Linked DNA regions of Homo sapiens: region 1 is linked to region 2. The links come from fine-mapping of genetic effects on gene expression. Tissue or cell type: whole blood. Region 2 holds a variant in brackets; the other region holds the start of a gene. All regions are shown on one strand. Distances are between the middles of the regions.

Region 1 (8,102 bases), 37 kb after region 2:
CGCTGATAAAATGGAACTGGCAGATGCTCCCGAAGGCAGGCAGGCTGAACGCCAGCAGGGGTCTCTGTAGTGCTGTGTGCTCCCCTACTCCTTTCCTCCTGAGAATACAGGGAAGAGAAACACCCTCTTTTTCTATTATTTCTCCAGATGACTTATTTGTGACAACTCCACTTTAGTTCTGTTTTGAGTGGGGGCAGGCCCAAGGCTATTCAGAGCTAGTCGTTAAACTGGAACTAGAAAAATAAAACCAGAGTCTCACTGCCCTTTGGTTGCTTGTGCTACACTGTGATTGGCATGTCTTGGAAAAATCACTTTGTGGCCACATGCCTCAGTTTCCTCTCCTGTAAAATGAGGAATGTAAGCAAAAGATAATAAGGTCTTATTTATAAATATTTTTAAGAGGCAAAGGTAGCTTTTATTATTCTCGCCATTGCTTTAAACAGGAGACAACATTCAATATGCAACACTCGATAGTTGCCTCATAGAGAGAGCACTTCCTTTCTGTTGAATGCTAAACTAGAGGCTGCGTTGTGGGGGAAGCTGCAACATCTGCCTTGGCCTTGTGGGAACAGGGATGGCCTCCAGGAGACCAATTAGTCGTATAAGATAATGAAAACATCTAGAAGAAATATGATTTCCACTCAAAGCTTCGAAGAGGACTAGTTTACCAAGTCTAGTGTTTTATAGGCTCCTGTGTACAGGGATCTGTTACAGGGGCTCTCGCTCCTGTGGCCACAACAACTTTAAATGGTGGAATAGGTGGAAGACATGAGTATTTCTCAGCCCGTTGAATCCTATGCTCTCTACCCTGTTTTCTCACTCTATCTTCTACAGATCTCCAACAGCCAACTATTTTGTCATTTATTTGATAAAATCAGTGGGTATATTGGATATATATTTTTCAGACTCCTCCCTCTCCTCCTGACCTACCAACCCCCACTAAGATTCTGATATAGTCCCCAAGGTATGGCAGCAGAGTATAGTGGTTATAGTAAGGGGACTAAGTGGTTATAGTAAGGGGACATTGGCTGAGTATGAGGACATTGGTTATATGAGGGGACATTGGTTATAGTAAGGGGACATTGGCTGAGTATGAACTTTGGAGCCTGATGCCTTGGGCTCAAATCCTTTACTTTTCCTCCTACCAGCCATGTAACTCTGGGCAAATTAGTCTTAGTTTCTCCATCTGTAAAATGGGGATAGTAATATTACCTATGTGTTACAATAGTTGGGAGGATTAAGGTGTTTAAGAGGAGCCCTTGGTACAAAGTAAGTGCTTGATTTTTCATTGTTTTATTGTTGATTGCTGTCACTAGAATCAGTTACTGGAGTGGACTGATCAATAGCCCTACCTCCAGTGAATGTCCAGAAGGGCTGCATCAGGCTCCATATAGTATCTCACATAGTGTTTGACACTCAGTCAAAATCTGTGGAATGAATGAGTGTGCGAATGTAAATTACTAAAGATGGCCGAAACTCCCAAAACCATATTTAGCAAAAGCAGAAAAAAGGCTATAACTCCTAAAGGTAAAGCTGTCCTCTAGTATTCCAAGGGCCTTGTCCAGACCTCCTCTTGAAAGATACCTATTACTCATTGTGTTAAACATATTAAATACATTATTTCATTCAATCCTTACAACTTTGCTTTAACATATATGTATTATTACCATTTTATGGAGAAACAGGTTTATAGAGGTTACACCCAAAGGGCATGCAATTAGTTAAATGGTAAAGCTGGAATTGGGATCCAGGTCTGTAAGACTCTAGAGAGTATGTTCTTAATTGCTAATTTACACTATCTTCCAAGATGCAGACTACCTACCAGTCTGAGGACTCCAGCATGTCACCTCATTGGTGCCACTAGCCTGAATGAAATCAGATCACACAGGCACCAAGGAAAACAGAACCCTCTCAAAGGAAAAATGACAATGCTATATAAAACTGCCAATTTAGATAATCAGTTCAAAAAACATTTTGTGATCACTAATTTATTCTGGTCTAGGAATTATGGTAGGTGCTGGAGTACAAAGATGAATAAGACAATCAAGCGGGAGATAGACATATACACAGATCATTTCAGTATAGCATGGCCAGTGGTAAGGTACTGAGGAGCAGGCATGGGGTGCTATGGGAGCACAGGCTGCTATGAGAGCATGCACAGGCCCTTTCTGCATATGGGGAGGATTCCTGAAGGAGATGATTCTTAAGCCGAATAATGCAGGATTGAAGGGGAAGAATGTAGGGATGGGAATTACTAGCACAGAAATACGAACAAACATGGTTTAAGCGGAGATCTATGAGCAGTTTGGTATTATTGGGAAACAGGAGGCAGGCAGTGGTGGAAGAAGGGACTGCAGAGGAAGACAGAGATCAGATAAGGAAGGGCCCTGAAATGGCCTGTGCAAGGACTTGGTCTTAACCCAGATGGCAGTGGAAAGCTGACAAAGGGTTTTAGGCAGGGGCAAGTTTGGACAGATACACATTTTAGAAAGCTCATTGGCGGCAATGTGCAGAATGAATGGAGGGGGTATGTTATAGGGAGTTATTTTTAGCTCTTTATGCATGGACTTGCACTCAGTCACACACACACAATAGTTAATATCTGAATATGTATGCTTAGCATCTGAATATGTATGTTGAACATCAATTGAGCATACAAAGATTAATGGAGAGAATGTTTTAATTGGCGGCCATGTCAATTGCCTTTTCAACTTTTCCTCCTCCACTTTGAAATATAATATTTCCTTCATACTTAATCCTAGGAAATTTGGTATAAGCAAGTTGTTTGCCGAGAAGGGAGGAAAAGAGGAAAAGGAACAGAGTGGCAGAGTGTTCTGAGTCGTCATTTTTCTGGGGATTAGTGTGGTGTCCATGGGAGGCAGATTTTGCATTTTCGAAGCTCTCATATAATTATTTTCACAATTGTATTCCCCTCCAACACTTGTGAGGAGATTTATAACTTTCTTATTTTTTTCATATTTATCTATATTATTTTAGAACACCAAATTTCTAGAAATACTTCTGAGATGAGTAAGACCAATCTCCAGCTTATGTGGGAAGATACTACCATAAAGAAATTAAGAATCTGAACCTGGGCTGGACGCGGTGGCTCACGCCTATAATCCCAGCACTTTGGGAGGCCGAGGGGGGCAGATCGTTTGAGTCCAGGAATTGAAGACCAGCCTGGGAAACATGGTGAAACCCCATCTCTACTAAAAATACAAAAATTAGCTGGGTGTGGTGGTGCATGCCTGTAATCCCAGCTACTTGGGAGGCTGAGGCACGAGAATCGCTGGAACCCAGGAGGCAGAGGTTGCAGTGAGCCGAGATCGTGCCACACACTCCAGCCTGGGCGACAGAGCGAGACCCTGTCTCAAAAAAAAAAAAAAAAAAAAAAAAAAAAAAAAATCAGAACCTGTTCCTTGGGGGTAAAGAGGATGCTTGGACTAGCAAGGGGTATGATACTAGATGGTGGGCAGCTGGGACTCCTACATTTGGAAGGCACTGATTGACAAGAGAGACTGGGAAATCACCTCTCCCATTTGAAGAGATGGGGAAATTAGGGAGGTCAGGCACCCTAGTGTCCACTGGGAGTATTAAGTTCCTCTGCTGTGAAAAAAGCTTTTGGGGGGATTTGACTCCCGAGGGGCTCCAAATGGATGTGGCTTGTAAGAAAGGTCCCTGGTTATAAGAGTGAAGTGTGTAGGGGTGCGGGTCTGGCTGTGGGTGTTAGGGCGATGATGAGAGGGCCGGGCTGCTGGCTGCGGGTCTGGCTGAGCGGGCCGGGGGCCTCTCACCTTTGCGGGCCTTGTCTCCCGGGATGTTCTGGGCCCGCAGCCGTTGGTCGAGGATGTAAAGCATCTCCCCGCCCAAGTTCAAGAAGAGCAGCGGTAGCGTCCGCACCGACATGGTGCTGGAAACGAGCTGGACTGGTGAAGAGCCCCGGGGTTCGGTAGCCAGTGGCCTGAAGGCCAGGCCGCAGCGTCCCAATAGTCCGGTTGCTGGGGCAACGCCGTGACGGGAAGAGCGAGCCAATCAGAAGGCGGTTTGGTGGGAGGTGCCCTGAAGACGGGAGCTAATTGGTCTGGGTGGTGGACCGTCCCGGGGGGATTGGTCCGAGCCAGAGGCCGGCGCGGCGTTGGGCGCGGCTGGGGAGCTGTGCTTCTGAGAGTAGGTTTCCCTCGAAAGGGCGAGGGCCGGGCCAGGGCTGGGGGTGGTCTCGACACAGCCAGCCCGGCGCTTGGGACCCCGGCCGCTGGCGCGGGGCCTCAGGTTCCTATAACAGAGGAAAGCCCAGGCAGAACGGCATTAGAGCAGGCTCGGGTCAGACGGACCTGGGTTGGAATCACGGCTCGTGATTTCTTGCTGTGTGACTTCGGGCAGGGTTTGAGCCTTGGCTTCCTCTTACGTAACATGGAGCTGGCACTCACATCACAGGGCGGCTGAGAGGAATCAGTCAGATCATGGAAAGGCCCCGAAAGCACTCAATAAAAATGGTAACTGACTTTTCTTTTAGACGAGGGAAGGATCAGAAGTCCTGAGTCGTTTGCATCGCCTCCCAAAAGTTTACTTGAAGTGAAGCCCCTCCTGGTTTCATACTCCATGAAGCAAACCAGTCCCGTCCGTCCCCGTGTGTCCAGTTCCCAGAGGATGCGCCTGGGGGCTCTGGGAAGTTCCCTCCTCGACGCTGTTCCGAAGGCCTCCCAACCATTTCTTTTTTCTTTTTTTTTTTTTTTTGAGACGGATTTTGCCCTTGTCGCTCAGGCTGGAGTGCAGTGGCGCCATCTCGGCTCATTGCAACTTCCGCCTTCAGGGTTCAAGCGATTCTCCTGCCTCAGCCTCCCGAGTAGCTGGGATTACAGGCGCCCGCCACCATGCCCGGCTAATTTTTGTATTTTTAGTAGAGACGGGGTTTCACCATGTTGGCCAGGCTGGTCTGGAACTCCTGACCTCAGGTGATCTGCCCGCCTGGGCCTCCCAAAGTGCTGAGATTACAGGCGTGAGCTATCACGCCCGGCCCCAACCATTTCTCTTTGAGGGCAGCGACTCCCTTCCTTACCTCCATCTTAAGCTCCAGGATTACTTTTTGCCATCTGCTGTATATTTTTACTCTGATGAACAACCATTTCTGTAAATTTCAGTACTTCCAAAACCTACTAATTATCTTTCCCTCCAGCTACTCAAACTTGAAACTTGGGCCTTGGCTTCCAAATCTGTTTCCCAGGGTCTTTTATCAGTCATCATATTATGCTTTTTCCTCCAACACCTTTCTTACATTCATCCCTTCATTTGTTTTTCTGTCTGCATTGCTATGTTCCTCTGTATCACTGTTCTTTTCTCTCTTCTACCTTGCACTGGCTGCTAAGCTAAATGTCAGAAGACATCACTTTTTTTTTTTTGAGATGGAGTTTCACTCTTGTCGCGCAGGCTGGTGTGCAATGGCACGATCTCGGCTTACTGCAACCTCCGCCTCCTGGTTTCAAGCGATTCTTCTGCCTCAGCCTCCTGAGTAAGCTGGGATTACAGGCATGGACCAGGGCACCATGCCCGGCTAATTTTGTATTTTTAGTAGAGATGGGGTTTCACCATGTTGGCCAGGCTGGTCTCGAACTCCTGACCTCAGGTGATCTGCCCGCCTCGGCCTCCCAAAGTGTTGGGATTACAGGCATGAGCCACTGCGCCCGGCCAGCATCACTGTCAACATGACACATCCCTTCAGTGGTTTCCTACTCTTTGCCAGATCACAGTCTAGATGCCTTGGCATGGCATTCCAGGCTCTCCACAGGCTCCAGCTACCTTTTTTTTTTTTTTTTTTTTAAAGAGATAGGGGTCTTACTTTGTTGCCCAAGGTTGGAATGCAGTGGCACCCTGGTGGCTCACTGCAGCCTAGAACTCCTAGCCTCAAGTGATTCTTCCACCTCAGACTCCTTAGTTGTTGGGATTTCAGGTGAGAGCCACCATACCCGGCCAACTACCTTTTTAAAGCCATCTCCTGCACCTGGCCACCTCCTCTCCCCCAGTCCAGTTGAACTTGTCAGCAGGCTGCCTCTTCCTCATTACCACACCACTGAAAAGTCTTGTCCTGCCATAACTGAGCCCAAGTCCTTCCCATATTAACATTCTCCTTCCATCCCTGCTAGTCTGTTTTCCTTCCTTTCCTTCCCAGTGAAGTGTTTTGAACGAGTTGACAACACTCACAACTGGAACCTCCTTAACATCCTCACTCCCCACCTCATTGCAACTGGTATTATGCTCCCTGAACCCCACTGAAACTGCTTCACCATGAATACTTTTTGGTCCTTCCCTTAACTGATATCTCAGCATCAGGACTATACAGTATCCCATGGCTGGCAGCCCAAGGCTTTGTTTAATTTGGTTATTTTGCCTGCTCTGTGCTCTGTTTTAAAAGGGAATACAGGCCAGGCGCAGTGGCTCACACCTGTAATCCCTGCACTTTGGGAGGCCAAGGCCAGCAGATCACTTGAGGTCAGGAGTTCAAGACAGGAGTTCAACACCAGCCTGGCCAACATGGTGAAACCCCATCTCTACTTCGCTGGGTGTGGTGGCACACACCTGTAATCCCAGCTACTGTGGACGCTGAGGCAGGAGAATCGCTTGAACCTGGGACGGGGAGGTTGCAGTGAGCCAAGATCACACCACTGCACTCTAGCCTGGGGGACAGAGCAAAAACTCTGTCTCAAAAAAATTAAAATAAATAAATAAGAGGGAATACAACTAGGATAGGAATGTAATAAACACCTTAGCATCATTACTTCATGTTAGGCCTTCATGCATTTTTGTTACCTGCCTTGCTCCCAAAAGCATTTGAGTTTGCTGTAGTGTACTCTTCCCTTAGCTTCTCAGACCTTTTTCTTGGTCCCTAAGCAGTGTGGTATAGTGAACAGGACATAGGCTCTGGAGTCAAGACAGAGCCAGCTTTGAATCCTAGACCTTTCTCTTCCCAGCTATATGAATTTGGACAAGTTACCTAACCTCTCTGAGTCTCAGTTCTCTCATGACTCTCTCATCTCTCATGGCTAAAATGAGGATAATTAGCCAATGTGCAGAGTAAAGGTGGCTGTGAATATTAGATAATGTGCCTAAGGAAGCAGTTAAAACAATGCCTTTTGACCGGATGCAGTTGCTCGCGCCTGTAATCCCAGCACTCTGGGAAACCAAGGCATTTGGGAGGGCAAGGATTGCTTGAGGCCAAGAGTTTGAGTAACCTGGGCAACATAGTGAGACCCTCTCTACAAAAAATAAAAAAATTAGCTAAGCGCAGTGGCTTACACTTATAGTCCTAGCTACTTAGGAGGCAGAGGCAAGAGGATTGCTTGAGCCCAAGAATTTGAAGTTAGTGAATTATGATCAGGCTACTGCACTCCAGTTGGGGCAACAGAGCAAGATCCTGTCTCTAAAAAAACAACCAGCCAAACCAACCAACCAACCAACGAAAAACACACAAATGCCTTTGCAGTAGGGCCTGATCCATTAAAATGTGTTCCTTTTTCTTTCCTTCCCCTTGGCTAGCCCCCTTAACTGTTAGTACCTGGCCCTCTGACACACTACCTCTAAGTAGCCGTGGCCACTTGGAAGTCCTGGCCCATTAAAGGCCTTCCCTACAATTCCTGGAAGTGATATCTGAATAGTGGATCTTCAGTTCTGAGCCTCTCATTTCTGCTTCTGCAGACACCCAGGCTCTGTTCTACCCCTACTTCACCTTCTCCTCCAGCTCAGCTGCTCCTTCTGACTTAGGCTAAGCTCTCAGGGATCATCCTTCCCATCCAGACATGGTCCTTTTTTCTTATACACTCCATCCCTGGGCAGTTTCACTTATGCCCATGGGCTCAATCACCCAACAACTCGCAAACCTCTCTAGTCCAGACCTCTCTACTGAGTCCTAGATCTAAACTTCCAACTGCTCTTTGGATAGCACTTTAGCACACCTTTCTCCCTTTTTGGCTTTCCTCAGTGGCTTCCCTTCCCAGAGTGAAGTCCAGTGTATTTCTCCAGTGTTATGGGCCGAATGTGTCCCCGACCAAATTCATATGTCGAAGCCCTAACTCCAATGTTACAGTATTTAGAGATGGGGCTTCTCAGAG
Region 2 (8,102 bases):
CTGGAGTGTAGTGGCACGATCTCGGCTCACTGAAACCTCTGCCTTCTGGGTTTAAGCAATTCTCCTGCCTCAGCCTCCCGAGTAGCTGGGATTACAAGCACCCGCCACTGTGCCTGGCTAATTTTGTATTTTTAGTAGAGATGGAGTTTCACCATCTTGGCCAGACTGGTCTTGAACTCCTGAACTCGTGATCCACCCACCTCAGCCTCCCAAAGTGCTGGGATTACAGGCATGAACAACCGTGCCCAGCCTCTCTGTTCTCTTTAGGTGAGCTCTGTTGTGGTTCTGTTTCCAATTGTCAGAGGATCACAAAATCCTGAGAGTTAGGGTCGACTCCCAGGTCACCTGCTCCAATTTACCACCCAGTACCAACATACCCTTTATGACATTCTGTGATGCTCCCCCCTAACCTCTATCTGAACCACTCCAGTGACAGCAACTCGCTTCTTTGCCAGCTGATCTACTTCACGGTCAGGAAGCTTTTGGTAACTTCTACCCATGTGCTTCCAGTTTTTTAAAACCTTTTTTTTTTTTGTATTTTTATTGAATTTACAAAAATGTCTGTCCAGTTATGACAGTAAAATGGGAAACCACAATGACAAACGGTGGCATGAAAAACAACACACACCCATCAGGAATTATATCAAACACTTTCCTTTTTATTCATTCAGAAGGGAATCCAATGCACAAATGTCAAATGTGAGCATTGTCATTTTTTTTGTTGTTCTAAGAAGGGAGAAAGACACTTATTCTGGCAGCTGCTTCTAGTTCTTTTCTATGGAAAACTGTCCTATTTTGTATTATATTTAATTAATAAATTTTCAAGGTTTTTTTTTTTTTTTTTTTTTTTTTTTTTTTTGAGATGGAGTCTCATTCTGTCACCCAGGCTACAGTGCAGTGGCACAATCTTGGCTTACTGCAACCTCCACTTCCTGGGTTCAAGCAATCCTCCTGCCTCAGCCTCCCCAGTAGCTGGGATTACAGGTGTATGCCACCACACTTGGCTAATTTTTGTGTTTTTAGTAGAGATGGGGTTTCATCATGTTGGCTAGGCTGGTCTTGAACTCCTGACCTCAGGTGATCCGCCTGCTTCAGCCTCCCAAAGTGCTGGGATTCCAGGCATGAACCACCATGCCTGACCTCTTCATGCCTTTTGAAAGTGAAGTAAATGTACTAAATCAATGAAAATGACTGCATTTTCAGACACCGGAGTGTGAGGTGATGTGGACCATCCATGGAAAGAGAGCCTGCAGCACAGGTGGGCATGGGATGACAACACAGAGGTTAAGGGTTGAAGGTAGTGACATTTTTGAAAAATAAGTGATGCAGAATAACTCTCAGAAGGGGTGTAAACCCTGCCGGGCACATCAGACATTGGGATCAGCAATGGGATGAGAATAAGGAATAGGCTGAGGATGAGAAATGGAGTGAGAGTGAGAGGTAAGGCGAAGGAGTGGGAAAGGAATGGGAAAGACAGCCAAGGATGAAATAATGATCCTCTGCCATTGACTTGGCTATTTTGACAGACTTTATAAAATGGCTGTGTTGAACTCTGTATCATACAGAGCAGTCCTCAATCAGAAGGCACTGAGGGAGAGAGAGGATGTATGGTCAGAAAGTGATGTGATTAGACCGGGCGCAGTGGCTCACGCCTGTAATCCCAGCACTTTGGGAGGCCGAGGCAGGTGGATCACGAGGTCAGGAGATTGAGACCATCCAGATTAACACGGTGAAACCCCCTCTCTACTAAAAATACAAAAAATCAGCCGGGTGTGGTGGCGGGCGCCTGTAGTCCCAGCTACTCAGGAGGCTGAGGCAGGAGAATGGCGTGAACCTGGGAGGTGGAGCTTGCAGTGAGCCGAGATCGCGCCACTGCACTCCAGCCTGGGCGACAGAGTGAGACTGCTTCTCAAAAAAAAAAAAAAAAAAAAGAAAGTGTTGTGATTAGAGCCACAGAGGTGAACGGTTGAGAGAGTTTTAGGAAGAAAAGGGTGTTTAGCAGGGCCAAGAGCTTTCAAAAAGCCAAGAAGCCAAGCGTGGTGACTTATGCCTATAATCCCAGCACTTTGGAAGGCCTAGGCGGGAGGATCACTTGAGCCCAGGAGTTTGGAGGCTCAGTGAGCTATGATTGTGCCATTGCACTCCAGCCTGAGCAACAGAGTGAGACCCTGTTTCAAAAACAAAACAGAAAACCAAAAAGCCAAGGAGCATGGTGATGAGAAAAGGCTATTGGATCTATTAATAGCAATGTTGGCACCTGGAGACCTGAGAGTTGAGATCTGTGCAGTGCAGTGCTGGCCCCATAGCCGAGAAGCTGATGAGTACGTGGTGAGGAACAGAGGAGAATGGCTAGAACAATGAAGATGGAGAGAAGCAGCCCCTGGAGAAGTAGGGGCCGAAGGAGTACCTGTGTTACCAGTTGAGGGTAACCAGTACTGGTTGAGGGTAACAGGTTGAGGTAACCTGACTGAATTGTCCAGGTTCTTGGCATTTTGAACAAAGAATTGGACAAAATGCACAAAGAAAGCAACGAGAGAAGAAGCAAAACAGAAGTACAGATTTATTGAAACAAAAGTACACTCCACAGAGTGGGAGTAGGCTCGAGCAAGCAGCAAGAGCCCTGGTTACAGAATTTTCTGGGGTTTAAATATGCTCTAGAGGTTTCCCATTGGTTACTTGGTTACACCCTATGTAAATGAAACCTGCCCCACGACCAGTCAGATTGGTTGTGGGAGGGGACCAATCAGAGGTACTTTCCATTTTTCATCTGTGAGGCAGTGGAAAGGGGGGGTTGCAAAGGGAGTAGCTTCTGATCCTTTCCTTACTTGGGCGTGGAGAGGTGGGGTTTTCGTTTTGATTCAGTTCTAGGAAGGCAGCGCAAATTGGCCTTAGGTTCTTGTCTCCTGCCTCCTGCCTCAGCTGGGCACGTTTGTACAGGAGGAGGAGAGCCTTAGCAGCCACTCAGATAAACACCTGAAGCAGAATATACTTGAGGTAGGGAGGAAAGATGAGGGACACATGCAATATTAATCAATATAAAACAAATATTAGCTTCTTGTCAGTTGTAACCTAAGCTGAGAGGTCTTGAGGATATCTAGAAAACTGGGGTCAAATGTCCTTTGCTGACACGGGGCCCCCTGCTGGGAAACCTGCTGGCCTCAGTGTTTCAAAAGGAAGTGAGGGAGCTCTATAAAGAAAATGAAGGACACAGTGATCTGAGGTGATTGTGCACATCTAGGCCCTGCGGCCTGCCTCTTGCACTGCTGGCACTGCTGGCACTGCTGGCACTGCTGGTGGTGTGTGGCTCCATCGGGCCTAATGCAATTGAGGTTTTTTTTTTTTTTTTTTTTGAGACAGAGTCTCGCTCTGTCCCCCAGGCTGGAGTGTAGTGGTACCATCTCAGCTCACTGCAAACTCTGCCTCCCGGGTTCAAGCGATTCTCCTGCCTAAGCCTCCGCTTCCCAAGTAGCTAGGATTATAGGCATGTTCCATCACACCTGGCTGATTTTTGTATTTTTAGTAGAGACAGAGTTTCACCATGTTGGCCACGCTGGTCTCGAACTCCTGACCTCAGGTGATCCACCTGCCTTGGCCTCTCAAAGTGCTGGGATTACAGGCGTGAGCCACCACACCTGGCCATGCAGTTGAGTTTTCATGCTGTCTTAGGAACTAACAGAGAAGGTAATGTTATTTTTGTCAGCAGAGGCACCACTGGCCAGAAACAAAAAGAATCTAGAATGTACACATGTATGGAGGTGGTGGTGGTGAAGTGTTAAGGTAATCAAATAATCAAAAACAATTTCCATTGACCCTTGGAATGAATCTTGACATTCTCACTTGCAAAGGGGTAAGTTATGATCTGAGAATTTACTTCACACCAAATCAGGAAGCTATGCAGGGAAGATTCAATGTGGAGGTTTCCTTATCCCAAGCCTGTCCTGTAATTCTCTCTACTGTCACCTGTCCAGGAATTTAGCAGCTGAAAAGGAGTTATCCAAGGCATAATTTGGAGAGAATAAGAGGTAGGTAGAGGTAGTATTAGTTTTCTGATTTTAATTTTGGTCTTTAAGATTAGGTATTATGCTAAATACATATTTTCTAAAATTTGCATTTCTCTTTCTATGGTTTCCTGTAGCTTGAGATGGTTCCAAAATGGACAGTGTGGCTCTATACTGAATGTAATCCAGAGTGACAGACCAGATGGTTATAGACTAGATGGATGTGGATGAGGGAATCTGATCCACTTTAGATCTGGGCATCTCCAGGATCTGGTTATGCTGAAGCCTGTTTCTCTC[T/C]TATTGGGATATCTGAGGGAAGAATTTAAAAATTCTTAGAAGGGCTGGGTGCAGTTGCTGACGCCTGTAATCCCAGCACTTTGGGAGGCCGAGGCAGGTGGATCACCTGAGGTCAGGAGTTCGAGACCAGCCTGGCCAACATGACAAAACCCTATATCTACTAAGAAAATACAAAAATTAGCCAGGCATGGTGGTGCATGCCTGTAATCTCAGCTACTTGGGAGGCTGAGGCAGGAGAATTGCTTAAACCCAGGAGGTGGAGGTTGCAGTGAGCTGAGATTGTGCCACTGCACTCCATCCTGGGCGACACAGCAAGACTCTGTCTAAAAACAAAAAATTGTTAGAAGGCTGGGCGTGGTGGCTCACGCCTGTAATCCCAGCACCTTTGGAGGCTGAGGCAGGAGAATCGCTTGAGACCAGGAGTTTGAGATCAGCGTGGGCAACATAGTGAGACCAGGTGTGATGGCACGTGCCTGTAGTCCCAGCTACTTGGGAGGCTGAAGTGGGAGGATCGCTTGAGGAGGTCGAGGCTGCAGGGAGCTGTGATTGTGCCACTACACTCCAGCCTGGGTGACAGAATGAGACCTTGTTTCAAAAATAAATAAAAATTGTTAGATACTCACGGGGACTACATGGTGAAATGGGCCCATAGACTGTTCTTTTGGATAAACGTAGACATTGATCCTTCTGCTGTTAAAGCTTGAAACTTGTATTTGTTTTATCTAAGTTCCTTTCTCAGGAAAGGACCTTCAGGCCCCTAAAAAATGGGATCAGAGAACTGAAACTTACCAGATGGGGGCACCAGATGCCCCCTTGCCCCTCCCTAGTTCTTATTTTGTTACACATTGTTACATTTCTTCCTTGCTATGTAAACCCCTAGCTTTAGTCGATCAGGGAGATGGATTTGAGACTGAGCTCCCATCTTCTCTGCAGCACCTGATTAAAGCCTTCTTCCTTGAAAATACTTATCTCAGAGATTGGCTTTCTGTGCGGTGAGCAGCAGGACCTAGACCAAACGCCTGGTGTTTCGGGAACAATGGGATGACTTTCTTCTTAGAATTCAGAGATAAATACATTTTCCTTCTTTTTTCTTCCTCCTTTGCTCTGGATTTTTATTACTTCTTTCTTCTGGGAGCCATTAAAGTCCTTTGGTTTTTGGCTTTTCTGCAGCATTGCTTTACTTAATCAACAGGGCATTCTAACACCCTAAGAACAAGAGTGGGGTGGTTTGAAACTTAGTTGAGAAGAGGCTACAGTCACAGAAGAGCTGAAAGAGAGCAGATATACCCCAAAGCAGCGGGGGGAGGGCAGCCTGGGTAAGACTCCCATTCTCAGGTCCCACCTGGGGCAGGGCCCAGGAAGCTATAAACTCAGGAACTTATCTGTGCAAGCTGAGTTTGAATTCTTTTTCTTTTTTAATAGATGAGGGACCCGAGGCTTGGTGAGGGTTAGTGGTCTAAGATGACATGGTGAATTGGGGGCGGGGATGGGGCCAGAGTGCAGTGTTGTGATTCTGACCATATGCCTTCCCCTTAAGTTCACTGGGCATTGGTGGATTACATGCTTATGCCCCTTTGCCATGGTTTTAAATGAATATGTGTGCTTTTAGTACTTTGTCCACATTTTAGGCAGAAAATAAAATCTTTTTAGAATCTTTATTTATTTTTATTGAGATGGGGTCTCATTCTGTCACCCAGGCTAGAGTACAGTGGCACAGTCATGGCTCACTGCAGCCTCGACCTCCTACTTTTTATCTACTTTACCTCCTACTGACTCCCATGCTTTCTCTGGAAGTCCTGAACCACCATGCAAATAAACTTGTTTTTCTTTTTTTTTTTTTGAGACGGAGTCTTGCTCTGTCGCCTAGGCTGGAGTGCAGTGGCGCGATCTCGGCTCACTGCAAGCTCCGCCTCCCAGGTTCACGCCATTCTCCTGCCTCAGTCTCCTGAGTAGCTGGGACTACAGGCACCCGCCACCACACCCAGCTAATTTTTTGTATTTGTAGTAGAGACGGGGTTTCACCGCGTTAGCCAGATGGTCTCGATCTCCTGACCTTGTGATCCGCCCACCTCGGCCTCCCGAAGTGCTGGGATTACAGGCGTCAGTCACTGTGCCCGGCCATAAACTTGTTTTTCTTAATATCTGTGCAAGTCTAGAGACATGAAACTCACAGATTGCCTCATCATGGAGCTGTCATACCAGAGATCTGCATCTTGTTTATTTACTGATAGGACAGATACGTTTGAAATCACCAGCATCGCTCTGGGATAGGTGGAGGGAGGAGGCTGCGGCTGCTTCTCGGCACCTCACGGCCCACCTCCAAGGCCCTGGGACACACTCAGAGCAGTGACATTCTGATATGTGACAGCAAGGTGGGAGCCGGACTCAAAACAGGTCAGAACCTTCCCATTCATCTGTCACCCAGTCAGGCCCCCCTGAATGGTGGCCAGATTGCTGAAAAGAGACTAAAACGAAAGGCACTTTGTACATCTGATGCAACAGGTGTTTTATAGCACAATATGCTTCTCCTCCCCAACAGACTTTTCGTGAGTATGTGGAGGGGGAGGGTGTCTTTATAGGTAAGGAAGTGTAACTTTAATGGGTAGGGAGCAATTAACATTTATTTGGTGATTTATATTCTTTTTTTTTTTTTTAATTGAGACAGAGTTTCGCTCTTGTTGCCCAGGCTGGAGTGCAATGGCATGATCTTGGCTCACTGCAACCTCTACCTCCTGGGTTCAAGCGATTCTCCTGCCTCAGCCTCCTGAGTAGCTGGGATTACAGGCATGCGCTACCAGGCCTGGCTAATTTTGTATTTTTAGTAGAGACAGGGTTTCTCTATGTTGGTCAGGCTGGTCTCGAACTCCTGACCTCAACTGATCTGCCCGCCTCGGCCTCCCAAAGTGCTGGGGATTACAGGCATGAGCCACCATGCCCAGCCCTTGGTGATTTACATTCTGTATCTAAACCCTTTGCCTTTGGAAAAGCCAAAGGGCAGCTTCCATTACATTCTAGAATGATGTTCACCTTGGTCCGTCCCAGGTGTGAGGGGATGGAGAGGTTCCTGTAGTTGGCCCAATCTCAGGCAATGTCCAGCTCAACTTAGTTTCTCTCCAGCCCTCTGCCATTCTGGATATTCCTTCCATAGGATTGAATGGGTCTGAACCTGCCAGTTACTCAGTCCTGGGAAGGAGCCTATGGCAGAGGGCTGCTGCGCCTTTCTGAAGCAGTAAGGGCAGCCCTGGCTGGAGACATTTTACATGGATTCCAGTGAGACTTGGCCTCCTGCTGCATCCTGCAAAGTCTGCTCCCGCCCAGGGAAGCGGCTCAGCTAGAATGCAGAAGGGAAAGGTGCATACCACACGTGCCTCCCATGCACCCAATCTAGGGTGCTGTTTGGTGACTCACGGTGATGCAGAGGAGACCGATGTCACAGTGCATCCTGCCGGGTATCTTTTTTTTTTTTGAGACATAATCTCGCTCTGTCACCCAGGCTGGAGTGCAGTGGCGCGATCTAGGCTCACTGGAAGCTCTGCCTACCAGGTTCATGCTATTCTCCTGCCTCAGCCTCCAGAGTAGCTGAGACTACAGGCATCTGCCACCATACCCAACTAATTTTTTTTGTATTTTTAGTAGAGATGGGGTTTCACTGTGTTAGCCAGGATGGTCTCGATCTTCTGATCTCGTGATCCGCCCACCTCAGCCTTCCAAAGTGCTGGGATTATAGGCCTGAGCCACTGTGCCCGGCCTATGCTGGGTGTCTTTAGAAGGCAAAGCACACTCAGGGGTAGAGGAAGACCCTGGGGG

Evidence for each region. PIP is the estimated chance that this variant, and not a neighbour inherited with it, causes the effect.
Region 1: OSCP1 starts here. The variant in region 2 is fine-mapped to the expression of OSCP1 in whole blood (TOPMed, PIP above 0.99). The same link has a PIP of 0.9 or more in sun-exposed skin.

Annotation. Positions count from the first base shown.
Region 1 is chr1:36,446,461-36,454,562 of GRCh38, forward strand. OSCP1 (organic solute carrier partner 1) reads right to left here and starts at 3,991. Exons shown (of 10, transcript NM_145047.5): 1 at 3,798-3,991. The coding sequence starts at 3,909. It overlaps LOC107984940 (a long non-coding RNA gene), which reads left to right. Exons shown (of 3, transcript XR_001737976.2): 3 at 2,998-3,105. RefSeq lists an enhancer at 1-202 and a silencer at 4,117-4,386.
Region 2 is chr1:36,409,336-36,417,437 of GRCh38, forward strand. No RefSeq gene overlaps it. Among named protein-coding and RNA genes, the nearest start is that of SNORA63C, 5.2 kb to the right of the region's middle. The variant T/C (reference allele first, on the strand shown) is at 4,296.